Regions from separate parts of the Homo sapiens genome. Here region 1 is linked to region 2. The links come from fine-mapping of genetic effects on gene expression. A gene starts in region 2. The other region holds a variant in brackets. All regions are shown on one strand. Distances are from middle to middle.

Evidence for each region. PIP is the estimated chance that this variant, and not a neighbour inherited with it, causes the effect.
Region 1: its variant is fine-mapped to the expression of GAS1 in whole blood (TOPMed, PIP above 0.99). The same link has a PIP of 0.9 or more in blood mononuclear cells.

What each region holds. Positions count from the first base shown.
Region 1 is chr9:87,264,948-87,280,710 of GRCh38, forward strand. LOC105376126 (a long non-coding RNA gene) reads right to left here. Exons shown (of 15, transcript XR_007061642.1): 3 at 15,480-15,763; 4 at 12,931-13,106; 5 at 12,742-12,819; 6 at 11,934-12,073; 7 at 11,696-11,752; 8 at 483-545. Among named protein-coding and RNA genes, the nearest start is that of LINC02872, 120 kb to the left of the region's middle. RefSeq lists an enhancer at 11,450-12,649. The variant A/G (reference allele first, on the strand shown) is at 7,320.
Region 2 is chr9:86,940,230-86,955,992 of GRCh38, forward strand. GAS1 (growth arrest specific 1) reads right to left here and starts at 7,277. Exons shown (of 1, transcript NM_002048.3): 1 at 4,133-7,277. The coding sequence starts at 6,550. The coding sequence ends at 5,513. It overlaps GAS1RR (GAS1 adjacent regulatory RNA), which reads left to right and starts at 8,469. Exons shown (of 7, transcript NR_049794.1): 1 at 8,469-8,764; 2 at 10,638-10,770. RefSeq lists an enhancer at 492-1,192 and silencers at 6,268-6,337, 6,408-6,487.

The DNA.
Region 1 (15,763 bases), 320 kb after region 2:
CTGGGACTACAGGCGCCACCACGCCTGGCTAATTTTTGTATTTTTAGTAGAGACGGGGTTTCACCATATTGGCCAGGCTGGTCTCAAACTCCTGGCCTTGTGATCCACCCACCTGGGCCTCCCAAAGTACTAGGATTACAAGCATGAGCCACCATGCCCAGCCACAAGTTAATATTTTTAATGCAAAAAAGCATGACGCAATATAATTGTGTCACTCACCACATGGAAGATTAGTTTAAAACATGAATTTGTAGGTGTATGATCTGGGAGGGGATACAGGTTTTTAATTGTATAATAGATATTATTATCTTTCAATCATTTAGACTAATAATTTCACTTGGATATGAACCCAAGGGGTACAGTTGAAGGCCGTTTGTGAAGGCCATGGTTGGAGTGACCCCCTGATCCCCATAAAGGCTGGATTCTGCATTATATGAGCTTATCTCTTCAAAAGCAAACCCCTCCTCAACTTTTCAAATTACCCCTGTGAGGTTGAAGATGCTTAGACATAATCCAGTCCCAATGATTGACACCAGCAGAAGTACCTACGGGGAATGAAAACACAAAATGTATTCAGTTTGATTCCTGTATGCATCCCTGTCCCTCTCTCATGCTGGCCATGACTAGATTTCTAACTTAATATTTCCAAAATAATGAAGGTCTTAGTGGGGATGGAACAATGATGAGGAGGAGAAAAGGAAAAGTCCAGGTAACAAAGGTCATTCTGGCTCCTAAGTGACCAGCAGGAAGGAAGTTCTCCCATCTTCTTCTGATCCTTCCAGGCTCCCTGCTGAAGGCGTCCTGTAGGAAAATGTCACTTAAGAAGTTGAAGCACAAGCAATACCGACGTTTGCCAGACTTCCCACTCAGCTTCCAACTGCAAGCAATTGACCATTCGCGTGAACAACGACAGGGCTTCCTAGGCTTCCCAGGCTTCTTAGCGTGGCCTCTTATGTTGATGAGATTCCTCCACTCATAAGTCTCTAGGGAAAGCAGGGCCCCTTCCTCCTACCAAGATGAAAAAGTCTTGCTATTCATCTCCCCAACCCTCCCAGCAGCTAGGACATGGCCACATGCTTTAAAGGTGGTCGACAAACAGTACCCACCCAGCACTTTGAATCTTGAAGGAGTAACATCCAGGCTAAAGTTCAATTAAAGTTACTCACAGTGGCCTCAGAGATACAAGCAGTGCTGTGGAGAAGGGCCACTGCTGGCAATGCCAGAGGGCAAGCTTACGGAGGCCGTCCCTCCAGTGGGACTGTGGCTCTGTGTCCTTGCACCCCACAGAGGCCCCTTCTTCAGCCTTCCTCTCAAGTGCATGATTCCCTGATAACCTTTACATTAATATTCCTTCTCTTTAAATTAAACACAGTACACTTCTGTTGTTTGCAACCAAGAATACAGACACAGATACAAATAAAATACAAATTATGTTGGAATCAGCTGATTTCCTGCCCCTTTTTTGTTGGCATCAAGAGGGGCCACATGTCACATGTCTTGCTTTAGTGCAAGAAATGGGAGTAGAAATGACCATGTGTCACTTCTGGGCAGAAGTTTTGAGAACCAGCCTACAGTTTGCTCTGTCTCGTTTCCTTCTGCCACAGATCACCATGTTTCAGATACACCAGGGATCAGCCAATTTGCTCTGTAAAAGGTCAGAAAGTAAAGATTATCTTCATTGTGGGCCATACTGCCTCTATTATGACAACTTAATCCTGTTGTGGTGGTGTGAAAACGGTACATAAACAAATAACCATGTCTATCTTTCAATAAAACCTGATTAACAAAGACAATAGCAGGCCAGATTCTGCCACAGCTCACAATTTCCCAACCCTGAAATTGAGAGAGTTCTGTCCACCTCAGTCCTAGAGTAAAGAGATAAGCAGCAGAAACTCAGCAACTTCCAACACACATATAGCAGGAGTGAAAAATCCAACTTTGTGTTTGAAAATCACTAAGCTTTGGGGGTCATTTGTTACCACAATGTAACTCAGCCTATGCTGACTGATACATGAGTACGAAAAGATAATCTCCATGCAAGTAAACAAAAATTGATTTTTGTATGATTTGATGAGGTTAGATCTACAAGAGGTGGGGAAAACTTCTTTACCTCTCAAGGTCAAAAAGCAAAAATAAATTCTTTTTCTTTCTGTGATACAGTTTCACATCAACCACTGGTGCCTGTAACCCCATGACCCTTATCATTACAGAGCAGCAGTTTTGTTCTGTCTCATGAACACTGGAACAGAAGCCCAGAGGACTGGACTCCAGTTCTCAACTCACTTCGAATTAGTTGTTTAACTCTGAACTGCTCACATTCCACTCCCAGTCTCAATTTCCGCATGTGCAAAACAAAAAGCTGTGCCAGCCCACAGCATCGTCTTCAACCTCTCCTACTTAGGGCTTTCCTAAGAGCACTGTTTACTGATGACTGACAGCAACAAGAGGTTCAAAAATGACAATGAGTAATCAAAAGCCTCTTTTGAAATGGATCCCGTTTGCTGGGATGTGGATGTTGAGCAAAGACACAGCTCTTCGGAAAGTGGGGAACATTTTCCAGGCCCACAAGAAGCAGCGTGATAGAGCCAGTGGAACAGAGCCGTGGGGATGAAACTGAGTTTTGTGCCCATGTTTCTCTGTATCCCTACTGAAAATTTAACACTCAGCCGTTTCATCACTCTTGGCCTCGGGAAGAAATTCCTTCATGCTCCTTGGTTGTTTCCAATGAATGTTCTCATCTCAGATCAAGGCTAAATGCAGAAAAGGGGGACCACTCACTTCTTTCTTTACTTTGATGCCCACAAGGGGTTGAGGAGCTTCTCAGAGCCAACAGTGCGTGTGCCAGACCCAGCCCAGCATCTGGTGCCCGTGGGATCTGTGCATGTGAGATCCCAATTTAATCCCCATGCCAGAGGCTTAATCCCTGAACTCTGAATCAGTCCTTGGCAGAGAGAAGGCTCTTGGCCGACTTGTAAATTTCCATCCTTCAAGCCACCTCAGGCCAATCAACAGCTCAACAACCTCCTGCGTTCCTCAGGGAGCCTCTACACAGCCCCACCCGCACCTCCAGGTTGAGACACTCAGTCATGGAAGGGCGGAAGAGAGGGGGCGTCAAAACCCTCATCTGCTCCAAAACTCTGTCCTAGCCACCTGGCCCCTGACTGAAAAAAAATTGGCCAAACCCTAGTCTGCAGTATTCTCTACCACAGGCAATCTTGGGTTACATCAACCCATCAGTAGCTCTGAAAATATTGTCAGGCTACTCTTCAGGCTAAGTAACAGGGAGCAAGACCCTAAAGATTATGGGACAAGTTGAATGAGTATGTGCCTGTGTCTGCACATGGCAGATTATGTGCATGAATTAGGAATGGAGCCTGCGACAAGAAAGCTGAAAAAACTTGAAGATGTAACAGGTTTGAGCAAAGCATTTTAAGGGAGGATCTGGAAAGGCAGTAAGCAGATAGTAGGGGAATACTGAGCCCTGGGGAGAAAAAAAAACAAAAACCTCTATGATCACTGATATTATTATTTGAGTAGGCAAAGTATTTTCACATACATATTCTCTCATTTAACTTCCCTTCAGAAACCACAAGACGTATATGAAAATGTAAACTTTCTATCAGAGGAACCCATGCTCTGAAACGGCTCACCCAAGGTGACTTGTGAATGGGACTAGGGCCCATTTCTTCTATATCTTTTGTTTTGTTTTGTTTTGTTGTGAGACAGAGTCTTACTCTGTCACCCAGGCTGGAGTGCAGTGGTGCTATCTCGGCTCACTCTAACCTCCACCTCCCGTGTTCAAGCGATTCTCCTGCCTCAGGGGCCCGAGTAGCTGGGACTACAGGCATGTGCCACCACGCCGGGCTAATTTTAGTATTTTTCGTAGAGACAGGATTTCACCATGTTTGTCAGGCTGGTCTCGAACTCCTACCTCAGGTGATCCACCTGCCTCGGCCTACCAAAGTGCTGGGATTGCAGGCGTGAGCCACCACACTCGGCCCCATTTCTTCTACTTCTGAGTCCAGTGCTCTTTTTCCCGGGACACTGAGACTTAGTTCAAGATTTGCCTGGGGCTAAACACACACCAGAGGTGGACATGCCCTATGACAAAGGAACACATGGCCTCTCAGTGCCTGATTGGGAACCCAGCTGCCAGCCGTCACAGTGCCAAGATGGGGCAAGGGGAGGGCAGGCTGGAGCCTGGTACCCGCTCATCCCCAGCACTCCTGCCACACCTGGAACCACATCAAGCCCCGACAGCCTCAAACGCAGTGCCCTGGGGCCTTGACTTCATTTGTTTCTCACTTCGTATCAACAGTCAAGATTTAAAATTATAATAATAATCAAAATCATTGAGTCCCTCTGATGGCAGGACACCTGATGTACACTGGGCATTTTACATGAGATATTTAAAATAATTCTAACCACCCTTTGGGGCTGTTACTGCATCTTCTTTTTGTAAGAACACTGAGGCTCAGAGAGGTTAAGTGGTTTGCCTAAAGTCCCCCTGGGGACCTGCTGAGGATGCAGGCCAGCTGTGACCAGTGCTCCTCACAGCAGCACCACCACACCCCAGGGCCAACTGAGACACAAACATCAGTGTCCACAGGGGCCACGGAGGGAGGGAAAATTGTTACCAGAAAAAAGAGAGAGCACAACACCCACATCACTGCATAGACAGGGCTGCGACCTGGCCACAGTAACCTGGAAAACCTTGCAGCTGTGGGAGAATGGTGAGGAAGGAAGTTAGGCTTTCCTTCCTGAACCCCAAACCTTTCCTCGCCTCCTTTTCTCTGTTTACGAAATCTGTCTTTGATTACTAATCAACAGCATTTTCATTATTAACATAACTCTCTAGTACACGTGAACCATGCTATAATTAAACAGAATTTATGTTCAGTAGATTTATAAAAGTCAAAGAATAATGGAAGAGAGATTTGAGTGTGAAAGTGTGAAACGCAAACAATAGGAGAGAAAGTTGTAAAGCAAAACATATGACATTCCTTCTGCATTTTTCTCTTGATTCCCAAGCCTTAAACCAACATTATGTGCATGAAAAAATCATGATTGATTCTGGAAAATATTTTTTTAGGGCTCATTATTTTCCATCGAATCTCTTATGGGTAAGTTTTAAAATTTAGAATAAAAACCTAAATCCTTTGAATTTTCCATATAGCTTTTATTTTTTACCTCCAGCCCTAATCAAGTAGAACACATTATGTTTCCCCTATAGAAAAAGGTCTCTCTCATTCTTAAGCAGATTTGAAAGAAATTGTAAACCAATCCAGTCTCAACACTGCCGATACATCTGGCAAGGCAATCAGAGTCAACACAGACCACAGAAGCCCAGGCCGGCGCTGGATGTGAGCTGCAAGGATGAGGATGAGGACAAGAAGGGGAGGAATTTCACGTGCTTTTCTTTGTACTTGCCCAGAGTGAATGCCCGTCTCCTCCACTCTACTCTGAGCCCGAAGGGAGATCTCAGACACACAAAAGAGAATTCGACACTAGGAAAGTTTCTGTGTATTTCTTAGCAGTATTTTTCTAAGCATACGTTATGACGTACACCCTGGGTAGTGACTGTCTCCCCACGCGTGTGTGTGTGTGTGTGTGCCCACACACTCATCCTGACCACGGACTCTCCCCTCCTTTCACGACATCAACCTGCTGTGCCCCATTATCTCTGGCCTTTGTGGCTTAGAAGGTCAGAGACACTGTTCCCTGGATAAGATCCAGAAAAGGAAGGAAGCGGAAACAAAAATGTTTTTGCAGTGAAGTGACCTGATTACACGCAGAGTGACTATTTCTAAGCCATCCTATAACTACCCCCATTCAGCACTGGAACCAAGCCACAAAAGCAGCAGAGGCCTCCCCCAGTGCCGTTACTGGCTTGGTGAAAACTGCGACTGCAAATGACAAAGCTGGTCTTTATTCCTGAGTGATTGTGAGTGCGGTGGGGATGAAGAGTTTGGAGGGATAGGGACAGCTTTGCGGTGGCCAAGGGGCTTCCCCTCAGGTGAGTGCAGTTAAGGACAACTGTGGGTTCTGCACCAAAACATCAGGGTTGAAGTCTCGGTTTCACCATCTGCAAGCTGCATGACGTTAGATACGATTCATTAAAGCCTCTATGTCTCAGTATTCTTATCTGTAAAATGGGTGATTATGAATTGGTTGTAATGAAGTAAGTGAAGTGCCAGAAGGTAACAGTAGCTATTGTTATTGTATGGGGTCCTTACTAAGACCCACAACGCCCTTACCTCTCCCTCCCTCCAGAACATACGATTTTGCTCACAGGGTTCATCCTGGTCACTGATCTATTTCTCAAACATTCTATTTCTCACCAGGTCTCCATCCACCTTATCCCTCTTCCCTGGAGCGTATCCGTGGTCTCCTCAGAGGCCTTGTTAGCTCACCAACACCACCCCCACCCCAAAATGCTCAGCACTGCATTATCCTGAGGGTTTCCCACAGAACACTGGTCATTGTCTGAAACTGTTCACTTTAAAAAAAAAATACTCATTTATGCTCAGTATCTCCCACTTAGAGTGACCTACTTATCCCAGTTTGCCCGGGGCTCTCCCAGTTTGGGCAGGAAGCCCCTCGGTCCAGAGCAATCCAGGACAGCGGCTCACCCCAGAGCCCAGGAGAAGGCCAGGGCAGAGGCCACCTTCTTCACTCCGTGTCTTCAGCACTAGAGAAGGCCCGACTCACAGCAGGAGCCCAAAACACAGGGAATGGAGGAAGAAAGGCATTAATATTTTTCTAAGAATTGTAATTAAATCAGTCTATCCAATCATGAGAGACTCACACCTCCTCTGATTTCTAATCTACAAAGCAGAGAGAATAAAAGTGGAAGTTACCAGGGTTGTAGATTTTTTTAGCTAGACAGAGCTTTGCTGGAAGGATGAGCCCAGACCACGCCTCTTACCCTACCGGGGTGGGGGAAATTAAGGTCCACAGCCTGATGGTCATTGCTAAGGTCATCAGCTGGTATGTAGCAGAAACAAGATCTCTCAGGATACAACTTACTGAGAAGTATTGTATGAACTGTAAAGCAATACTTTGACATTAAGGTATTTACATTATTCTTTACTTGTAAATTTATGATCATTTTATCTCAGCAGGAATCCAGAACAAACTAGCCTTCATCTAAAGAATTATGATTTATCTAGAACTCTTGAGTTATATTAAACTGAAGCACTACCCCCATCCAAGTTCCTAATCAATTCAAATTGCTTAAATGTTTACATATTTTCAATTCCTTTTTTATAAACTCAGCTTAACCACTTCCTAAGACATTGCCACTTTTTGTCACATGT[A/G]GTTCTTTGAAACCAAAGAAGTAGCAACTAAAGATAAAATCGTCAATGGACAAAAATCACCGATACCCACAGTCAGCAAGGTCTCAATGCAAATTTGTTGGCTGCTTAAAAGGACCAGAAGCACTAGACAAAAGCATACACTCCCAATATGAGTTTTCAAGGTTTTGTTATCTGATATTTTATATGGTCAGCCAGATCAACAGTGGTCCTTGTTCACATAGAGTATCTCAGATGACAGATGGATATAAATTCATCCCCATTCATGCTAAGATCTAAATTCTATACATGCAGATAAAAGAAAGATATCTTGGAAGAAATTTTAACCTGATGTGAAATATAGCACTTATTAACCATCATTCTAATCATCTCTAGTAGATATTTAGACAGCATTTAGCAATTTGCAATAGGAGTTCAGAAATTATCTTGTTTGAACTCAAATGCAAATCAGTGGGAGCAAAATGATGAGAACTTATGAATGCAAAGAAGGAAACAACAGACCCTGTAATTAGTCAATTAGTTGACTAATTACGGAAGTTTTCATCGCTAGGAAGTACCTAAGTCATCGGAGATTATTTTCATTTCTAATCAACCTTCAAGTGACACTGAAGTTCCTAATACATTGTTTATTTATTTATTTTAAACTGAGACAGAGTCTCGCTCTGTTTCCAGGGCTGGAGTGCAATGTCCAATGACCCTCCTTGAAGGTGGAGGGTGGGAGGAGGGAGAGGAGCAGGAAAGATAACTATTGGGTACTGGGCTTAATTCTTCGGTGATGAAATAATCTGTATATCAGACCCTCATTATATGAGTTTACCTATGTAACAAACCTTTCAATGTACCCCAAAACCTAAAATAAAAGTTAAAAACAAACAAAAAAGAAATGGTACAACCATTGTGGAAAACAGTACGGTGGTTTCTCATACGGTTAAAAATTGAGTTGCCATATGATATGGAAGTGCTACTTCTGGGTATATCCCCAAAAGAATAGAAAGCAGGGCCTCAAAGAGATATCTGTACACCCACGTTCATGGCAGCATTCTTCGCAATAGCCGAAACATGGAAGCAATCCAAGCGTGCACTGACAGATGAATAGATAAGCAAAATGCAGTGTAGATATACCACAATGGAATATTGTATTAACCAGTCTTAAAAGGAAGGAAATTCTGACACAGCTTATAGCATAGATGAACCTAAATGAAAAGAACCAGTCACAGAAAGCAAATCCAGTATGCTTCCATTTATACCTGGTACCTAGAAGAGTTAAAATCAGAGAGGCAGAAAGGAGAATGGCGGTCGCTAGGGGCTTGAAGCAGGGACAAATGGGGAGTTACTATTTCATGAGTGTGGAGTTTCTGTTTTACACGATGAAAAGTGTCCTGAAGATGGATGGAGGTAATGGATGCACAACTTGATGAATGTGTTTAATACCACTGGATTCTACACTTAAAAATGGTTAGGAGGGCCAATTTTATGTTATATGTATTCTTCCACAATAAAAAAAATAACAAATTAAAGAAAAAGCAGAGAGGCAGAGTTGACTAACTACAGGAGTTTTCATAGCTGGGAAGTACCTAAGTCATCAGAAATGATTTTCATTTCTAATCAACCTTCAAGTGACACTGAAGTTCCTAATACTTTATTTATTTATTTGTTTGTTTGTTTGTTTGTTTTTTAATTGAGATGGAGTCTCGCTCTGTCACCCAGGCTGGAGTGCAACGCCCACTGCCCGGGTTCAAGCAATTCTCTTGCCTAAGCATCCCTAGTAGCTGGGACCACAGGCATGCGCCACCACGCCCGGCTAATTTTTTTGTATTTTTAGTAGAGATGGGGTTTTGCCAGGCTGGTCTCAAACTCCTGACCTCAGGTGATCCACCCCCCTCGGCCTCCCAATGTGCTGGGATGAGCCACTGCTCCTGGCCTGAAGTTCCTAATACTTTAAATTACTCTTCCCCTACTGATGATCTGTAAATAAGGTATTTTAAAAGAACAAAGTTCACTGTGTGAAAAAAAAATTGAGGAAATAAGCTGACTTTCCCAAGTTTACCCAGCTACAATGGTGGGGAGTGGAATCTGAAGTCAAGCGTGTGTGTAGTACACAAATGTGCCTTTTATTTTCCAATTTTCTATTATCAGCACTGCTTTGGGAAGAAGATAGAGGAAAGAGAAGAAAAGACCCTCAGACCAATGTATACTTCTTTCACAAAACACACACCCAATGCAAATTACACAGTATAGTTAGCTGAGGGGCATAATTTGTCACACAAATAAACAAACACTATTTGGTTCCGTCTGTGGCTACTGCAGTTATAATGAAAATCTAAAAACAACTGTAATGCTTCTAACCATAAAATTATAAGGCAAGAAAATGGATTTAGATAACTGTGAGAGCCTTAATTGTATGTTTGTAAACTCACAGACAAAGCTTTTACTCAAATTTAGCTCCAGCTCAAATAGCACACCCAAATCACACTTTCTATTTAGCCCTTCTCCTGCCGTATAGATCTAAGACCCCAGGCATTAGAAAACTCTGTCTTTACAAAAGCATGTGTATTGGGCGTGGAGAGGAGGGAGGAAATATAAGCAGCTTAATGTGGCAAAGGTAGCTGGAGAGATGGGATCCATGAAAGAAAGCACTCCGGGACACCTTAACTGCATTTGTTCAATTACACCTGATCAAAGAATTCCATCAGAACTCCAGTGTCAGAACTACAAGGAGCCAGAGATCCAATGTCCTCATTTTAAAGACATTCAGAGATGGCAAATAATTTCTTGGGCTCACACAGAAATTTATATGGCTCAAGTTCCCATAGGCCCATGCTGAGCTTCCTCGCACTTCACCTCAGCCAATGCTTGGTGACTATAGCAGCATCCGTTCCTGGCCAACCCAGTAGCAAGTTGTAGGGAGCCAGCCCTGTCTGTTTAGGGCTCCAGTCTCTTTCCCTCCTCCAACGGGCTGGGTGCAGAGAGGAGAGCCAGCCAGCCCCCTCCATTCCTCCTCCCAGCCCCTAATTCTAGTCTGGCACCAGCCCAGAAACTGGGGCAGCAGCAAACGTCCTGACAAACGTCCTGCCCTGGAGGAGCTGAGGACCACAGGCAGGAGACAAACGAGAACATGGCAGAGGGGGATGTGCTGTCCAGACACTAGAGCAGGAGGGAGGCAGGAGAATGGGTGGAGTGGTGATTTTGGTAAGGGAAGAGCACTAAGCGTCTTGGATGTGACATTTGAGCAAAGACTTAAATGATGAAATGGGAGAGAGTCGATGACTGGGGTAAGAACATTCCAGAGAGAGGAAATGGCAGGATAGAAAGGCGAGCAAATTCCTAAATGATGGTTGAACAACTCTGTGAATGAATATTCTAAAACCATCTAATTGCATACTTTCAGTGAGTAAACTGTGGAGTATAGGAATTACATGTCAATAAAGTTGTTACCAAAAAAATTGAAAGTAAATTTTAAACAACAGATAAAGGCACTCATGGTTTTTCAGGTGCATATTTTTACAAACCCTGTCTACACTCTTTTTGGACAACACTAGGGAAAATTACATAAGGAGTGACATAGGTCCTTCTCACTATCCTTTCCCTCTTCCTTGTATTATCCTGCGCCCCAGCGTCTTCCTAAGAGTCTGAGGTTAACCTGTGGGTAGATTCCTGGGCTGCTGCTGGCATCATGCATGTTGGTCCCTACTGCCCCATAACTTGATTAGCAGCTTGACAGAGGCCTGTTATGCCTTAATCAGTTGTCACTATCCTTGGCCAAAGGGCCTGAATCTGAAGGAGAGGAAGACACACTTAAAAGTTGGAACAGTAGGCCGGGTGCAGTGGCTCACGCCTGTAATCCCAGCACTTTGGGAAGCAAAGGCGGGCAGATCATCTGAGGTCAGAAGTTCAAAACCAGCCTGGCCAACATAGTGAAACCCTGTCTCTACTAAAAATACAAAAATGAGCCAGCCATGGTGGCAGGCACCTGTAGTCCCAGCTACTTGGGAGGCTGAGGCAGGAGAATTGCTTGAACCCAGGAGGCGGAGGTTGCAGTGAGCCAGATCATGCCATTGCATTTCAGCCTGGGCGACAGAGCGCGACTCCATCTCAAAAAAAAAAAAAAAGCTGAAACTGTAAAATCACCTTCTGTGGGCTGTTTAATTACAACTCCTAGAAACCCACATGCCACAATTAAGAGAGTGTGGTCTAAAGATTGGGATTTTTAAGTGCCCCAGCTGGCCAATAGGACAGAAATGTTTAATTCAGGGCAACTTTCCTGTTACCCTGAACCAAACCGAGATAACTGACTGCCTTCTCTTTTCAGGCATTCATTTACCAGAAGAACAGGGAATGAGCAAAAGAAATTCTCAAAGAATTTTTCTTTTGATACTTACCCACACTTCCTGTGCTCTGAGTCAGACCACAGAAATTGACAAATATGTGCAGAACATCTTAGAGGAAAAATGAGAAATGAAGACAGATGTCAAAACTATGTAGAAACACAGCCGGCCATCTTCTTAAAGACTCACTTTAACACGAATAACATTTAACTCCATCGTCAACAAAACCGAACTTCCTAAAAAATAATTCAGCATGGATTTCTATGAGCCATGTTGACTGAAGACAGATAACCTGGCAGATGTGTTGACTCCAACAAAACAAGGCGAATGTTCTCAGGTTTTGGGTATTGTGTCTCTCTGAGGTGATAACCACAGAGCGAGTTTCTCTGCTCTTGGTGTGAAGCAGTTTCAAATTGTTGAACCCCAGGGTTGCTGAAAGAGAAAAGCAAGTTATTTCAATGCAAGAAGAAACAAATGGCAGTCTCAAGCATGCACAGCTCAACTCCCATAAACGATGAAGGTAGCCAAGGTTAGTGAGCCCCATGGGGAGTGCTGAGGGGTGAGCTTACCACAAAAAAATGCAGGCCCCAGCTTGAAATGTCTATAAAACTAATTGAAACAAAAAAAGTACAGGTTTTTCTGAGCACACCAGGAAGAGTCTCAATCAGACAACCGTTGTCCACTGGAGACTCTCACAGGCTGTGGTGGTCTCTGGACAGCTGCTGCGGAAGGGTTGTCCCTTATTTCTGAATTAAATGAGGGAGGGCGGGGAATAATATGTTGAGATCCAGGAGGAGGTTATTTAGCAAGAGAAAAATATACTGGCAATGCTCATTTAAGGAAATTTGCTACACACATTTATCTTGTTTTGGTGCTGCTGTTGTTGTTTTGGTTGTTAAAATCATAGTTTCTCACACAGGAACTGAAAAAATAATGACTAATTGCAACTTGTGTTACAACATATTGTTCCCCCAGGTCAGTGCATGTTGAGCAAAGGTATGTGGCCAAGTTTTATTTGGGCTAGAAGAATCCAAGCCCTCCACATAATCAAGAGAGAAGCCACCGTGTGACCCAAATGAACGTAGGAGCAACAAACCTACAAGGCTTCACCTTCAGCTATTTCTCTCTCTCTTTGCAGAAGAAGGAAGCCAGAACCAAGTTAGAATCAACTTGTCTACCTTGTACAATATAAAGACAATGGTAATTAAGAACATTATTAAAGAGGAGATATCCAAAGTGTCAGGAAAAAAAAAGCACCTAATAGATTTTTTGAGCATTTCTATTCCTACCTTATATTTGCTATGAATTTCCATCACTCCTCTTCATAGTGACATCTAAATGCTTCCATTACAAGAACTATATTTGTTTCTTGTAAAATACCTTTTACCTCTGGATTCTTCAGAATTATGGCATGCAGTGTGCTCATAAACACTATCTGATCTCTTCCAAACACAGTTGATCTCTCCTGTAAAACATGCATGACCAAAACTTATTTTGCTGGGAAGCCATTCTGCTAACACAAACTCTCTTCTCAAACATTGCACCTTGAATTTGAGGACAACTTTAGGAGCTAATATGGTTTGGACATGTGTCCCCTCCAAACCCCATGTTGATATGTGACCTCCAATGTCAGAAGTTGGCCTGATAGGTGGTGTTTGGGTCATTGGAGTAGATCCCTCATGAATTGCTTGGTACTGCCCTTGTGGTAATGAGTGAGTCCTCACTCTATTAGTTCACAGGAGAGCTGGTTGTTTAAAAGAATCTGACACCCCTCCTCTCTCTCTCTTGCTTCCTCTCCCTCTCTCTCTCCCTCATCATGTGATGTGCCTGCTGCCCCTTTTCCTTCTTCTGTGAGAAAAATCTTCCTAAGGTCTCACCAGAAGCTGAATAGATGCTGGTGCCAGACTTGTACAATCTGAAGAACTGTGAGTCAAATCAACCTCTTTCCTTTATAAATTACCCACTCTCAGGTATTCTTTACAGCAATGCAAAAATGGACTCCACGGGAACTTTTTTGGAGATCCTATCAGATGAGTACTTCCCAAGCTCTGTTTAACTAGGGTAATCATATAATTTAATGTCTAAACAAATACTTGAAGAATAAAAGGGGTGCTATAAATAATGATTCCTGAACAACTGGTATAAACTGGGACACATGAACATACGGTCGCTCTGTCCCATAACATTTTCCCACTCTATTTTCTGTTATCCATGATCCCTTATCATCTAGGAGATTTGGAAAGCCTCTACTTCTTGCTATTTATTTTGAGAAAAAATTAATTATGTTGAATATACTTTTTTACTCTGTGAACACTCCTCCAGAGACATCACTGTTTCTCCCATGAGGAGGTATATGTGTCCCCACTGAATCTGATCAACTGAAAATCACTCTACTGGGCAGAAATTTGCCTGTTCTTTGGCATTCTCGCAGGTAAATATGCTGCTGTAGAGAAGAGAGGAAGTCACACTATGTCTCTGCCCTGTTGAGCATGAGTTGTTCATAGAGTAAAAGGTCACTTTAGGGCAGGGAATTTAAAAGATGGCTTCATTGCAAACATCGAGTCCAAACTGAATCTAGAAAAATTTCAAATATTTGGAAGGTTTCAATGAGTTCACACTCAATGACTGACCATCAGACAAATCCATCACTGCTGTCCTAGGCCTAGTTACTAAGTCAGCTACACCAAGTCTAATGGAAATATAATCAAGGCTAGTAAAAATGTCCTACATAATGTGGGAGACAACTGCACTTCAATTACTTGGTTATTTGAAAAGGCAGTGATAAAAAGGCATTTATGTGATAGAATAGGAATAATATTTCCACAGTGCAGCCCTGGGAGAAATAAAGGGTCAAACACCACCATGTCCATGAGTCTGGTCTTGTCTGGAGCTGTCACTGACAGGGCATGGAGTCACAGGACTGCTCCGTTTTGCTATGCATCATGCCCTGGAATGGATGGAATGGAGTTGTCCTAGATAGAGTTGCCTTTGGCAAAGGGGAAAAAATGTGTATGCAATGGTGTGCTCCAACAGTTTAGTAAGAGGGATTGCTCTGCTGCAGAGCCCTTAACAAGATATACCAAAGTTGTTAATATACATTTAACAGAATGGAACTGGCAGGTGATGGAGAGATTTTAGTGACCCACAGCACACAGGATAGAAGCTCTAAGTCATTGACTTGAGGGTGCTGAAGAAGCCATTTAAACAGTTTCTAGTCTACTCATTCATCTTTGATCATAACATTGCCAAATAAATGATCATCCTAATCACCTCTATTCTAGAATCAGCAGCTTTCAGTGTTGTGTTGGATAACCGAACCTGGTCACAATTTTTGTCTGAACACCATTTCTGGAACATACTTCGTCATAAGAATAATGTATGATGGTTGAGGAGGAGAAAAGAGGTAAGGCAGTTGGGCCTTCAGGAAGCCCCAGAACCTGGAGAGAGGGCAGGTGGCCATGTAAGAGAAAAGTATTTTCTATCCTAAAAACAACCACCAGGGCTCAGGGCACACTCAGAAGCACTGGCAACCTGTATTTGGAAAACCTCAATGGAAAACCTCAGGGCCACTTTTCAGGTGTTGGAAAGGCAGGGAAGTTGATCGCTTGGAGGCTTCCCTGTCACCCATGTCTACAGATGCCTCTGAAATTTACAAGAGAAGATCTAGTTTGGCTAATGTTCCTTTTGGAGCAGTATCTTGGAGTGTTCTTTCATCTACAGCAAGTGAATAGACAGGAGTGTATAGTTTCCACTAATGAGGCATCTTCATCCTCCTCCATTCCCTTCTTACAAATGAGGTCAGGAAAGAAAACTATTCCCCACCACAACATTAAGTTACCACTGCTGGATGCTTCCATTTTATCGTTCGTCATCCACAACCAGTCTCCATGGGGTAAAATCAGCAAGAGACTCCGCGTGATGTGTTCCCTTGTCTGCAAGTGGCCACATTAATAACCTTTTGAAGGGCTTTTTTCATTTCCACTCTCTGGGAGGAATTTTTTTAACCACTCAAGCCTTGGGGTCTGTTTAAACAAGAAATTGTTTTACACTCCTGAATGATGCATTCCTCTCCAGCTATTTCTACATAACTTCCAGGATATGAAAACCGCCCAAGGCTTTCCA
Region 2 (15,763 bases):
CTAACTGGCAGGTAAGAAGTGACATGGATTAAAACCCAAAGGCTGGCATTTTTCCTAAAAGAAATGTCTATGACAAAGACCTCAAATCTCACTGAAATTGTTCCTCATTTTGATGCTTAGTAACATCTAATCAGGGATAAAATATACAATCAGATTTAGTTGTGGTATTAACCCCATTCTGGTATCCAAGAACCCGTAAATATCCTATAGCACTTCTAAAATTTAAATAAAAGATAAACTTGTAAGGACACATACTGATAACCAGAGAACATAAAGTTGTCTATAATAGCATTTTATTTTTTATTACAGATTGAAGATGTCCTTGACAACATTGTGTAGATGCTATCTGTGTGCTTAAGGAGAACATGCTATAGATAATTATAGTATATACCAGCACCATTGAGAGTAGCTGTCTTTGATCAACTTTATAAAATTGAACTCTTAGAACAACAAAATCAGTAAAGTATTGTTTTGGTGAATACCGTATCAAAAACCATAGACATTTGATTTTATTATGGAACCCATGCTCCTGAAATAAGTGGAGAAAACACTTTCTGCATCTCAGCAGCCCTTCGGGATTCTCTTGCATGCATATTACACAGGGTTTGAAGGTAGCCCTCCAAAATATTAGCTGAAAGCTTCCTCGGAAAGCAAATCTTTCCCACATCCTTCCCTGCAGTTCCTCTTTAAGAGGTGTCAGCATGGCTGAAAGAATGAAGTGGCTGCACATTGTTTGGCTGTGCTATTATGTGCTTAACATTTCCATAACAAAAGTGCCACTCGACTTCTCCCCGATTAATGCAGCTCGAGGGCTCTTGTCGTCCTTTAATAAAACATTGTTGAAATCATTTATTTAGAGCCCCTGGTTACTAGTGGGAGAATGACCATCTTTGTGCCAAAATATAGTGTATACAGTCCACTATTTTGTAGTAGATCATTCTGTTATTTAAGAAATTGATTAAATTGATGCTTAGAAGGAAGGTATTTATGCTAATAGCACATGACTTATGTCATTCAGATAGTCAAGGGTGAACCTTTTCCACTGTCTTCCAGAGGCAATCTCTCAAATAGACTACAGTAAAGTCCAACTTTACTTCACTCACAAGGCAACGAGACCCACTGGAAACTCAACCCTCCTTAACTACATTGGCCACAAGGCATTTGCAACCTGATGCCCTCCCACAACCTTGCTTTGAGTAGCTGGGAGAAACAGGGTCAATTGGCAAGAGTTCTGATGTCCCTTGGTGTAAGAGGTCAAAACACAAATAACGCAGGCTTTTCTTTTTATGGGTTGAAAAGAGATACATGAGGTTATTTTGTTAGAGAGCCTCCACAATGAACTCAACAAGCTAACAATGCAAAGCCAAAGTTTAAAAGTAGACAAAATTTTAATACAATGTTTGAGGTTTCTGAAAGTCCTCATTGTATTTTGGGGATCTATTTTTATTTGATTCTCTGTAACATTGCTGGGATGGGGTGAGGGTGTCAATACAGATGGTGGCAAGGAACAGAGAAAGCTCACTCCCATGAGGGTTCTCCTGACTCTTCAAGGCAGAGAGATGGAAAGATTCTGTCTTCACTCACAGGGACCCCATCTGGAGAATGGCGGTGCACCCTAGATGTGTTAGAGCCTGGTGGTCCCTTAAATTTGTGGCAGTCAGGGCCAGGAGCTGTGTCCATCCTTCTAGACATTTGAAGCGTTGCTGTCCAAGTACAGAGAAGTCCTGCTACTTAGTAGAAGAACTTATTTCCCTACAGACACGTTTCCACTTTACATACGTGTATTGCTCACGTACATAGCTATATATTGTTTAAAATAAACAGGGACCTTATGTTATGTCCATTGTGATTATATACAAAAGCGTTGCTGTGTGCTCGGGTGAGCAGTGAAGCCTGAACCTCCTTCTATTTACTGTATGGTCACTGTCAGTTCAATGAACTGCCTCCTTGTTCTCGACCATTGTCCCACACTCCCTTAAACATTTGTCACTGAAGTGCCTCCAAAGACAAATAAACTGTCACTGAGAATTCAAACCTGCTAACTGGGGAAATGGGAAAGGCCGTGAGGACTCATGATTTTACATGAAATCTAGAAGGAGTTCCTCTCACTCTGGCAGAGTTCTGTTAGAAGGGTGATGCTTTTTGAGAATCCCCAGGAAAAGCCAGAGATACCTTTTCTTTCATTAATGGGACTTCCAGCCATTCTCCATGGGACATTTGAGATGGCCAAATGTCCAAAATTCCAAAAGGCTCCCCAGAGAGCGTGAGATATTACAGATGTCAACATCTGTAAAAATCCTTTCTGCTTAGAAGCAGATGGCAATATGCAATCTCATAACCACTAGCCAAAGGGTTCTAACATCTCAACAACCTCCGCTAGGTCTGTAGGGGTACCAGAGGACTCCTGGGCTCCAGTGTATAATTGTTTAAATTAAAATGGACCACCAATCAATGTTCACTTTCTTTAAGGAAGAAAACATAAAGCCTCGTGTCCTCTCTCCCCAAGAGCGAGTTGTGTTGATTTATTCCAGGCAGATGCTTTTGACAGGACCCTGTAAAATCAAGTTGTGAGTTTATTGTAGCAGTTAATTATCAGGCCTTTTCTAGTGCTAATGCCTTTTACTTCTTACTGGGGAAAACTGGGCCTTTTACTGGGACAAAGACTTAACTTTTAGTCAAGCATGTGTTAAAATAACATGAGATGGAGATGATTTAAATATATTTAAGGACAAACGCAGGAGCACTGCTAACTTGTCGTTTTGTAAAGAAAGCTGATTTCATTTACAAGTCTCTGGGAATACTCTTTGTTCGCTTCCCAAAGAAACAACGCTCTCAGCTTTGTTTTAACAATATGTTTACTCAACCATTCAGGTGACTGGAGATTCCAACCACACACCACTCTCCTGGGCTTAAGTCTGACACTACAGCTATCTTAGACTTTCTAATACTATACATATAGAAATCGTGGTTTTAGGTGCACCAAGAAGTGTCTTGAATACCTCCATAAAAGCTGGGAAAAGAGCGAGTTAGAAGCACAAGAAACCTTGAAAAGTAGGGGGGTGGGAGTGGGTATGAGGAAGTCAGAATGGGGGCATAGCTTCGTTAATTACTTTAGGCAGCAGAGAAATCTGGTTATGTTTTTTCAGCACATGTTAATATCAAATAAAGAGACACCAGATCTTGCTAATCTGTCGACCCCTCAGACAAAGTTTATTTGTGGTGACTTTTAAACTCCCGACTTGCCTTCCAATCACCGCGTTTAAAATGAAAAGCTTTAAACAAACACCAGGAATAGAAGATAAATAAACTTTTTTTCCCCCTTGCAAGTGCCTAGCTTGGCGAGGTTCAGGCTCAAATCCCTAGAGGACAGAGCGCTCTCTTTTGTGTTAATGTTTAAAAGATTTTCCAATGCCGGAGTTTATTCCTACTGCAAACATTTCTATTTACAAGGTCAAGTGTATCAGCACTCGACACAGCTTAAGAGTGTAATTATTTATCTAAGGGCGTTTGAGTGTAGATCAGTAGCTCTGGCAGGAACCCAGCCTTCAGCCACTGCTAAACAACTCCTCACAACAATATTACAAGTTCTGGTGATTGTTCCTTTCCCCTGTGTGTTTACTTTTGCTGGTCTGAATGTTTTGCAACAAAATTTTGTACTTTTTCACCAAAAGTGTGAAAATGACTTTGAAGTATTGAGCTTGCAAGCTTCCTAAAACCTATTGGTAACAGATGTTATTGGCATGTTTGATTGAGAATGGCTAGTAGCCAGAGAGGATACTCTTGGGGGTAAGGGGTGATGGGAAGGGGGATACAAAGAGGGGAGGTCTCAGGGGAAAAGGGGGAGGCGGGGCAACATGTCTGAGTTATCCTCAAATTATGTACAGGAGACACTATTTTGTGAATTCTCTCCACAAATGCAAACACCAATAGAAGCCAGTCAATTACATATTTTTGGCTGCCTCATTTACAGATGTCTAATTGTTCATTAAATTAAAGGCAGAAATAATTTCTTGTCTTGTACTGTATTTTCATTTCAGTTGATGGTTGATAGATTCTCAGTGCCCCCTCAACCCCCCTCCTCACCCATTATTGGGTTAACCACAATGTAACTCTGGAAAGTAACTACACCATATTCATTGTTTAAAACTCTTTACTGATGTACATGTTTTAATAAAACAAATAACCAAAAAAAATACACAAATCCATAGTTATTTAAAAACTTAGGATTTTTAAAAAACATGTCTATAAAAATACAACGTTTAAGGCAGTTTGGAAATGCATTTGTACATTTCTACAACGTCCATAAATTCTCTTGAAAATAAGAATGTTAACTTCAATTCTATAAAATACACTGTACATTTTAAGACTGTTCTAAATATAGCACACTTCACAATGGACTGTGGGTTTTGATTCCTGATGACAAATGGATTCTATACATTTCAGGGGGGAAAGGTGTAATATGGATGTGAGTTTAAAACTTTTAATTTCTTTTTAAAAATAAATTATTTCTGAAGCATACAATTTATAAAAATTCTATATACAAAGTACAGCAACTGGTAACAAACCCCAGTTTTAATACATTTTATATACGATGTACCAGGGTTTAGCAACCCTGATAGGAGCAGAGGCAATATACATTCTCCGCATATTTAAACATAAAATTTCTTGATGTAAAGAACAAAAATGACAAAAAAACAAACATCATAAAGAGACTTTCATACATGGCAGTGCAGAGCTTTTTTAAATAAAAAGTTGCATTGTTCAACACCATGGCAACCCCTTAGATCAGCATTTTTGGACCCTTAATCCTAAGAAATGTGCTAAGAGATCAGAGTGGTAGCAATGAAATTAAGGTCAAGGGCTCAAACTTATCCAAAACCAATTTAGGGGTTCCCTCTAAGGCAATCGCCACCCACCCTCACCCCCACGTCACTGAGAATTCTGGGCGCAGATACAAACAGTGAAAGAATGAATCGGTAAGTGGGACTTTTCTGTTTACATAGGATTATAATATCCTCACTGGCCACAATCTGTAAAAGTCGATACTGGCACTTTTTTTTGCCCCCTCAAAGGAAATATGCTAATAGACAGCCCCTTTGCAAATATAATTCCTCCTTCCCAACCCTTCAAATTGCTAAGGCCCCACTGGTCAGCACCTTCCCTTTCGAGTCCAGGACTACTGTTCTGTCCCCCACATGCTTGCTTCCTCCCGGACGTCCTGAACACTGCAGCTAGCTTTCTGGACGGCAGACGAGTTGGGAGTTTCTGGAGCTTGGAATTGGGGCGGGGGAGGAGGTCCAAGAAGTCAAGCTCCGGAGAGGAGCTTCAGGGGAAGTGCCCAGAGTCGTGGCCGGGGAACCGGCTACACCAAGTTGACTTGGAAAAAGTTTTGGGAAGTATCCCCAACCATCCCTTCTATCTGTCCCAAGCCACAGGTGCCCGGCGCGGGGTCGAGGCGAGCACGGGAGTGGGACGCGGGCTCTCCCGCAGCCAACGGCGGGGGGCGCGAGGGCTAAAAGAGCGGCCCAAGCAGCAGCAGCAAGATGGAGGCGAGTGGGGTCCAGGCGCCCCGGGGCGCCAAGCGGCCGCCGCCGCCGCTGCTCCTGCGCCCAGGCCCATAGGGCAGGTCCCCGCGGCCGCCCGATGCAGCAGCGCCGCTGCCCGGGCGCGGTGGGTGCGGGACGCCGTCGTCGTCGTCCAGCGGCTGCTCACCACCCGCGCCCCCGGTGCGCTGCTCGTCATCGTAGTCCTCATCGTAGTAGTCGTCCAGGCCCCCGTCCGAGCCGCTGCTGCCGGGGCCGTTGCCCAGCTCGGCGCCGAAGCACAGGCGGGCCATGTTCTCCTTGACCGACTCGCAGATGGGCCGCTCGAGGCCGTCGCACACGCAGTCGTTGAGCAGCGCCGCCTTGGGCATAGCCAGCATGTCCTCAATGACGGTGCGGCATTCGTCCGTGCAGCGCAGCCCGTTGAAGACTTTGCCGCAGTAGGTCAGGTAGCGGCTCAGCGCCAGGTTGCAGCGGCTGTCGCGGTCGCAGCGCCGCCGGGCCTCGGTGCAGCCCATGACCCCGCCCGCGCCGGGGCCGCCCGCGCCGCCGCCGCTCGTCCGGGGCAGGCACGGCTCAATGGCGCGCTTGGTGGACTTGCAGTTCTCGTCCTGCGCGCAGTCACAGTCCTCCAGGGCGGGCCCGCGGCGCGTGTGGTTGAGCTGAATGAGGGCCGAGATGCAGTGACTCGGGCAGCGCCAGCGCGACGAGAAAGAGGCGGCCGAGGCCGGGAAAGCGGCGGCGGCGGCCCCGGGCGCGTCGCCCCCGCCGTGCTGCGCCAGCACCGGCGCGCACGCCTCGGCGTACTGGTTGTAGGCGTAGCTGCACTCCGGCTCCCCCTGGCACTGCAGCAGCGCCTGCCAGCAGATGAGGCGGCGGCCGTGCGCCAGCCCCGATCCCCGCGGCGCCGAGCCCAGCAGCTGCAGCAGCGCCATCAGGCACAGCCAGGCGCCCGGCACTGTCCCCCCGCGGGCCTCGCCGCCGCCGCCCAGCAGCGCGGCCACCATCGCGGGCAGCGGCGGCCGCCGGGAGAGGAGGGGAAAGGAGACGAGGCGCGGGGAGCGGCGGACGCGGAGCCGGTGGAAAAGTTTGTCCAAGTCCTGCCCACTTCTTGCATGAGTGTCTTCATAAATCCATGCGCGCCGCTGGCTGATGCCCCGCTGGTGGCAGAAGGTCCCCTTTCGCTCTGGCTGCGGTGGCTTCCTGGAAATGAACAGCTGTCGAGATCTGGTCCCGCTCTCCCACCCGAGAGCCCTCCGCTCGGCCCCCGGTGGTGGCGGGAGAGGCTCACTGTCGCCCCGGGGGGGTGCGGGCCGCGGGGCCGTGGCGGGGCTGCAGGACCGCGCGGCGCGGCGGGTGCATTTTGCTCCGCGCCTGCAGATCCGTTGTGCGGCCGGCTGTCCCCGTGCCGGCTGCTCGCGCTGCGGCCGCGGCGGCTCCTTCCTCCTGGGCTCAGTGCCTCGCCGCCGCCACCGCCGCCGCGGTCTCTCGCATCGCGCCGCTTCCTGGCCCGGCGTCCGCGCGCTGCCCGCCTTCCCGCGGCCCGGCCGCCCCGCGTCCCCTCCCCCTCCGCCCGCGGCAACCCCGGCCTCCGCAGAGCTCCGGGGAGCTCTTTCCGGGAAGCGCGGGGAGAACAAGAAAGTCGGCGCTGCCGGAGAGCGGCTCCCTGGCTTCACTCGGCGGCAGCTTCTCGGGTGACCAAGAGCCCGGGGAGCGGATCCGCTGAGCCCGGCTGCAGACTCGTTAGCAGCGAGGCTTTAAATACAAAAGTGGGCCGGGAGCCCCCGCGTGGTGCCGCGGTGCCCCCTCATTATGCATGCATGGAAAAGCAAACAAACAAAAACATTAGCAACGCTCCTCCGGCTCGCCGAGCCCCGGCCCCGCGCGCTCCGAGCCTGCCCGCTTTCTCCTTTCTCCACTCTCTTTCGCCCTTTGCTCGGCCCCCTTTCCCGGCTTTTCGAGATGCTATTGGTCCTGCCTGTTGTTGTTGAAAGTTTTTTTTTTTTTTTTTACGAGCCGCTGGAGTGGGGTTGCGGAGTGGGGGAGGGCGGGAGGGTGGTGGGCAGCTCACATTCAGGCATTCAGGGCTTGAAAGGAACGGCTTAGGGAGCCTGACGGAGGCCCGGAGCTCCTCCTACTCTTAAGGAGGCTCGGATATGCAGCCCCAGCTCGCGCACAGAACCAGCGGGCAGGGCTTAGGGGCAGCTGTTTGCATCCGGCTCAGCCACGGGCCTTTTTTGTTTGTTTTTTTTTTCTTTTTTTTTTTTTTTGTAGTTTTATTAATTCTCGCTGGCCCCCATCTGTGCTTTCGACTGGATTCAGAACTCAGTTTATCTTCCAGGCTCCCTGTCTTTGGGTCTTGATCACCACAGAGGGGAAGGGGAGAATCCAGAGATAAAATGTGAGACTGAAACTGTTTTAAAGAAGCATACAAGAAAGAAGCACACACTTTATTAGGGAGATGTTGATGAGATGCTTACAACCCGCCCGCCACCCCCCAGCCCCAGCTAGGCCATCTGGCAGGTACCGCCCGTGCGCCAGGCATCGTTTTCAAATTGCAAGACCGAAATCCAATCAACCGAAATAATTTCTTAGGAAGATAAGCTTGCAACACGTGCAATAATGAAAAAATTTAACTAGCATTAAAAATATTCAGGAATGTCGAGCAATTACCACCTGGCCGCAGTCACAGGACAGAAGACGGAATAAATGGGCACGCACCAAAGGTTTATATTAAAGTGTAAGTTTCAGCCCCTCAGTATATTTAAGGGAGGCTGCTCTGCAGAGGAAACCTCTGCCTTCTCGGCGAGGGAGTTTCCGAGCTACCTTAACTGGGGCGCAACGCAGCCTTCCGCCACCAGAGGCAGCGGGCGTCTGCGGCCTGTCAAAAACTGGCGCTTTTTTCCTCCCCTTTCCGTGGAGAGACTATCAACTCCATCTGTCACAAAAATTAAGGCTAAATCTCCTCTCCAGAAGCAGAGGGAGCCGGGGCTCCGACGCGCTCAGCGTCGGGCTGTCTGCCTCTCCCTAGAGGCCAAGTGAATTTGAAATGGCAAAAGTCACAGCCGGAGGCCCAGCACTAGGAGATTCCTCCGGCTGCGGGAAATCTTCCTGTACCTGCTGAAGCTGCTGCGTTCCTCAGAGGCGCTTGGTCTGCCGTGGGAAGCTGCACCTCTGCAGTCCCCAAAACCAAAATCAAACCTTAAAAGAGCCAGACTGAGGTAAGGCGGACCGTCTTGCTCTGATTTGAGTATTGGTAGACAAACAGCAATATAAATCGATACTAAAAAAATCCAGAAAGGCTGCAACTTCATGGCACATCAAAACAACCATATCCCTGGCTCTCTGTCTCTTTTTTTTTCTCTATTATTTGGAGTTGTCCTCTCAGTCCGGCCTGGAGGACTTGGACAACTCAGACACCTTCTCTGTGTCTGGGATCCCTCCACAGGTAAGGTTCGAAGCCAATTAGACAATTGAAAAATCCCCTCTTGTCTTTAAAGCTTTGTTATTTTAGGCCCATAAGGAACAAAGTCAGCACTCGGTTTCATCTTTACTTGAATTTTTGTTGAGTTCCTTTAGAATAGTGGGACCCAAACCTTAGCACGTATCCTAAAACTCAGATCCCTAGTTTTTGGAGTTTCTGATTTAGTTGGACTGGTGGGTCCCAAGAATATGCATTTCTAACAAGTTCTCAGGGAATGCTGCTCTCAAACTTTGAGAATCACTGCTCTCAAAGTTAACATGTTTCTTTTCTGTGTTGTTGCTGTGTTTTTGGTAACACTTGCCCCACCTTGGCCTTGATACAGCTCTCAGTGGGGTTTAAGGGAGGCCCAAGAGCTCTGCATGCTTTGGGGACTTCTGCATCCCAGTCACATAGCATTAGCATTGCAAGCCTGAGGGGTTCTCAGCCCACTTTTTACTGTGTCATTTCCATTCACCACAATAGGCTATACTGTCTTCTATCTTAAAAAAACATAATAGTAAAACCTTCTAGACTCCACGTCCCTATTCAGTCACTATCCCATTTTCATGAAAACTTGAAAATCTTGCTTTTACTCACTTTCCCCACTCGATTCACTCTACATAATCGAGTTCCATTCGATTATGTAGAGTCGCTAGTGACCAAAACCTTGCTCTACCTGATTGTCACTTCTCAGTCCTCAGCTTATATGACGTTTCAGCAGCATTGGCCATGACTGATCACCTCCTTTTCAAAGCGCTTTCTAAAATTTTGGCTTCCGAAACTCCATACTCCCCTGTTCTCTCATTTTACTGCCTGGTGGCTCCTTCTGTCTCTCAACTCCTTAGGTAACCACATCTAGTGCCTTGATTTTAAATTGCATCTCCTAATTTGATGTTTTCAATCTCAGTCTTTCTCTGATCTCCATATGTATATATTCACTTGGTTCCAAGGACATCTCAAACTTAAGCTTCCCCAAGAGCACTTCTAAATTTCCATCCCCAAAACCTATTTGTTTACTGGGCTTACTGTGGTAGATACCCTCCAAAATTGGTCTCCATCACTTTTCTCCCTACCTTTACATCCTTACTACTCAGATCAAAAGGCAGAGTATAATCCCCTTCCCCTTGAGTCTTGGGTAGGCCTTACTGACTTTGACCAATAGGACATAGTGAAAGTGACTGACATTCTGGGGCCTCCAAGGCTAGATCACAAGAAGCCTTGCAGCTTCTACTCGGGCCTTGTATTAGTCCGTTTTCACACTGCTGATAAAGATATACCCAAGATTGGGCAATTTACAAAAGAAAGAGGTTTACTGGACTTAGGGTTCCACATGGCTGGGGAGGCCTCACAATTATGGTGGAAGGCAAGGAGGAGCAAATCACATCTTACATGGATGGCAGCAGGCAACGAGAGGGCTTGTGCAGAGAAACTCCTGTTTTTAAAACCATCATATCTCATGAGACCCATTCACTGTCATGAAAACAGCATGGGAAAGATACACCCCCATGATTCAGTCATCTCCCACTGGGTCCCTCCCACAATATGTGGGAATTATGGGAGCTACAAGATGAGATTTGGGTGGGAACACAGAGCCAAACCTTATCAGGCCTCTTGGAATACTTGCTCTGCAGAAGCCAGTCACCACGTAAGACATCTGGACCACCTTCAGACTCGCATGCTGTGAGGAAGCCCATGCTTACTATGTGTAGAGGATACATGGAGAAGGAAAGAGATGCCTGGCCAGCTCCCTGCTGTTTCAGCCATGTGAGTGAAGAAGGCACCAGACTTGTGAGTGGAGACACTAACTTGGATGTCCAGCCCAGCTGAACCTTCAGGTGACTCCAGCTCTAGCTGCCATCCTACTGAAGACACATGAGAGAGACCCCAAGCCAGGGTCAAGATCAGCGTGAAGCAAGTGAGGCATTTTGGTGCAAAATGTAAGGAGGCATTGACCTTCATAATTGGGCTCCAAGACTCCAAGAGTGAGTGCCTCCTTAAATTTTGTACTTTAGACACTACACTCACCTTTCTCTAGTTCTGGTCTTGCCTCAAGCAAGAAGAGCAGAGCTTAGCTCAGTCAACCCAAAGAATCCTGAGAAATAACAAAAAAATATTCTTTTAAGCCACTCAGTTTTGAGATGGTTTGTTATGCAACAATAGAGCATTAGAACTTTTCTTCCTGTCCAATTGCTTAGGTGAAAGATGCTAGTATCTGCCTGAATTCTTTCCTTTTCTTCACATTCTACATTCAATTAATGGCTCATCATAGGTGTCAATAAAATATTTGATAAGTTGAATGAATGAAGAATCAGCACTTCTTGTCTTCTAAATCAGCCAACTCAGAACTAGTCCAAATCATTTCTACTACAAAGAACAGTAATAAAGACCCTGAGAGATTAAAGAATACAGAATAGTTCTGAAGTTTTAAAATATAAAATTATATTTCCAAAAGGGTTGACTGGTTCAGTGAAAGAACAAAAACCTCAATCAACAAATACCAATTACCTTTTGGTGCTTTAGCAACATAACCCAGATAAAGTAGGAGGAGATAGACTTCTGCCCTCAGAGGACTCAACAATATGTCACTTGGCCATTTGGAGTTGTCAGAGGCTCTAACCACTTAGCAGAAGTCTTAAGTCACAGACACCCTGTATTAGTGTGTTCTCACACTACTATAAAGACTGGGTAATTTATTTAAAAAATAGGTTTAATCTGCTCATGGTTCAGAAGGCTTTATAGGCTTCTGCCTCTGGGGAGGCCTCAGGAAGCTTACAATCATGGCTGAAGGCAAGTGGAAGCAAGCACTTCTTCACATGGCTGGCAGGAGAGAGAGAGCAAAGGAGAGGGGTGCTACACATTTTCAAACAGCCAGATCTTTTGAGAACTCACTCTCACAAGAACAGTATGGGGGAACTCCCTCCATCCCTTCCCCATGATCCAATCACCTCCCACCAGGTCCCTCCTCCAACACTGGAGATTATAATTCAACATGAGATTTAGGTGGGGACACAGAGCCAAACCATATCACATTCACTCTCTTGTTTTCTTTATTTACTTGCATTCTTAAAACCAGAAAATATTAATACTTCAGTTTGTGGCAGATACTGCATGGAAACCAAGCACCATCTACTCTAGAATTCTACATTAGACTTTGTATCCTGAAGGTTTACCTCATTCTTCACAAAAGTCTTCCCTTTGTCTGTTGCCTTCTTAAGAAGAATTAATTCTTGGGAACAAGATAGAAGGATGGGAACCTCATGTAGAAGGAAATCCCTTTCATGCACAGTAAAGCAGGGTCATTCTCCCAGCTAATGATCTGGAGCCTCCTCCTGAACCCCAGCTTTGCTTATATCTTCGGCAAGGACCATCTTCGCATCTTTGAGCCCTATTAATTCCATCTAAGAAAAATGTTGTTCACATTCACCCTCCCTGTCTTCTCATGTCCTGGTTTCTTCAAGGTTTTCTTCATTGCTGAATACCAGGTCTTTCCCAACTCTCCTCCAAACCAGGGATTGTAAACCAGAGAAGCATCTCTAAAGGACTCGGGAGCTTTTTCAAAATACATATGCCTGTGCCAACTTCATTACACTTGAATTCTTCCCCAGGGGCCAAGGAATGTGTACTATGGAAAAAAACAAACACACACACAATGGCATATTTCTGCCTCAACCACTCAACATCAGTGGTTGCTAGATTTTGAGATTTCAAAGATCCGTTTATTTTCAAAAAAAATCTGGAATATCTTTTAAAAAAAGATGCCAACTTTTTATTTTATCAAGCATTAACAAACAAACAAACCTACTACTACCATCTGTTAACACCAGTGTCTTATTAAATAAAGAGGATTTGAAACCCCAAAGGCAGAGAAAGAATAACCAGAGAATACAGGCGAGTTGAATACATTTAGATATTTAAAGGACTTACTATATTGTCCTATTTTTTTTTTTTTCATTTTAACTGAATTTACGACACAGGGGAAACTTCTTCAGAAACTTTTGCATCTTCAGACAGCATTTTGGAATAACTACTCTAAAGCAATCCTCCATGCTGATGTTAAATGAGTCGGATGAAATCACTACTCCACTTAAAAATTTATAGTGACTCCTCAGGAAAAAGTCCAAGGTCACTACCAGTGTTACAGCAGTTTGAGGTCTGGTGCAGTGGCTCATTCCTGTAATTCCAGAACTTTGAGAGGCCTAGGCAAGAAGATCACTAGAGCCAGGAGTTTGAGGCCAGCCTAGGCAACATCGCGAGACCCCATCTCTACCAAAGAACACCCACAAAAATTAGCCAGACATGGTGATGCGTGCCTATAATTCTAGCTACTCAGGAGGCTGTGGAGGGAGGACAAAAATTAGCCAGACATGGTGATGCGTGCCTATAATTCTAGCTACTCAGGAGGCTGGGGAGGGAGGATCACTTGAGCCCAGGAGGTTAAGGCTACAGTGAGCTATGATCACCACTGCACTCCAGCCTGGATGACAGAGCAAGACCCTGTCTCAAAAAAAAAAACAAAAAAAAAAACGCAGTTCGAAAGACCCATTCCAAATACTTAACCCCATCTATTCTTGCCTGTGCCCCCAAACACAAACGTATATGTGCACACACACATGCACTCACATACACATACATATGATGCATGTACTCACATACATATATGGATGTACACGTGCACACTCATGCAGGCACACACAGGCACAACATATACCCATGCATGCACTCACGCATACTCATTCGTGCACACACATACACACAAACTGGAATTTCTCTTCTGAGTATCCACCATGGCATCTCCATCCTGCCCTTCTCCGGGGACTTTGGTATGTTGGCCTCTTTAGCAGAGAAATGCTTCTGTCCCCCAGCTTTAAGGGATTACAAGAGAAAGTCTCCCTTTTGACGCTCTACTCCTGGATAATACATGTAAAGTCTCACCGCCCCCTTTCTATGTGCACATACTCTTTGTAACTGTAGTCAACGCTGAGAAATCCATGTTTGTTGCTTAAGCCACCCAGTCTATGATATTCTGTTATAGCAGCCCAAACTAAGATAGTGGATGAAAAAGACAAATTTTTCTAGTAAACAAAGAGCTCTTAGAAATTTACAGCAAAAGGGCCAGGCACGGTGACTCACGCCTGTAATCCCACCACTTTGGGAGGCTGAGGCAGACGGATCACTTGAGGTCAGGAGTTCGAGACCAGCCTGGCCAACATGGCGAAACCCCATCTTTACTAAAAAAAAGAAAAAATACGAAAATTAGCCAGGCTTGGTGGCAGGTGCCTGTAATCCCAGCTACTCGGGAGGCTGAAGCAGGAGGATTGCTTGAACCCGGGAGGTGGAGGTTGCAGTGAGCTGAGATTTTGCCACACCTCAGCCTGGGCGATAGAGCAAGACTCAGTCTCAAAACAAAACAAAACAAAACAAAACAAAACAAAACAAAACAAAAAAAAACAGGAAAAGGACAAACCAAGGGAAAATGGGTGAAAGATAGAAACAGACAATTCACAGAAGCATAAATCCAAATTGTCAGCAAACAAGTGAAAAAATGTTTAAATTAACTAGTAGTTAGATGAAAAGAAATTAGAAAACAATGAGATATTACTTTAACACTCCATAGACCGACTAAAATGTGAAAGCACTTTGACAGCCAGTTCTTATAAAGATACCTTCAAAAGTTGCTTGTGTAAATGTGAAATGTTGGATTCTTTTTTGGCAATACCTTTAAAATGTAAAATACAAATACTGTTTGGCCCAACCCATTCCTGAGAATCTTTCCAATAATAATAAATACTGATAAGGAAGGACACTATCTGCATTCTAGCCATTCCAATAGAAATAATTACTTTTTTCCTCCAAAAGTTCTAGCAAAAGTTTTGGAACCTCAATTGATCTGGGCCATGTGCCCATGTACCTTAGTGAAAGAGATGAGAAAGAGAGAGAGAGAAAGAGAGAGAGAGAGAGAAAAAGAGAGAGAGCACTTCCTGAAGGAAAACCAACGCTGTCATGATGAGAAAAATCAGCCGCTACACCAGGGCTCCACAAATGTGATCCAGTGCTTTGTAGTGGTCCCTGATGAGATGGACCACTCAGCTCATTAGAGCAGGCATTTGAATACTTTTATAGCTATCTCATAGAGTAATATGATGTCAGTTGAAGCTAATAATAAAATTTGAGGCTTCTGTTTTGTAGGTATTCTTTTTTCTAGTAACTTCAAAAATTTTGTTTTACAAACTATCTATGATAGACAAAAAAATTCTGCAGTTTCAGAACAGACAATTTGAGAAGCACTGTGAAATATATACATTAAAATACAAAAAAGAAATGGATACTGGTTATTTTCTTTGGTTTTAGAGGTAAATAAGTTGTCTGGCACAGGAACATAAGGATTTGGCGCTGTGTAAAGATTAATAAAAATGGAAGGAACAAACTTCTAATTCTTCAGAGAACATGGATAACAACTCCAAGATGCAAAATGACAACACGATCCCGCTTTCACTGATGAGTGTATCAACAGAGACAGAGCAGCTGTTTAACATCATCAGCCTACTGTTCTCTATGGAGCAGAAAACACACCCCCTCATCATTGCTTTGGAACTGGGGAGATCAAGATCCTGGCTCAGTTTCAATATCTAATAACATGAGGAAATACCCACAAAATTAGTAGGAGCTCCAATTATCAGGAAACTCGACTTTCATACTTTTTGAAAAGAGATATTAATGAAATAGAGACTTAAACCCATTGGCAAGATACAACATAGAA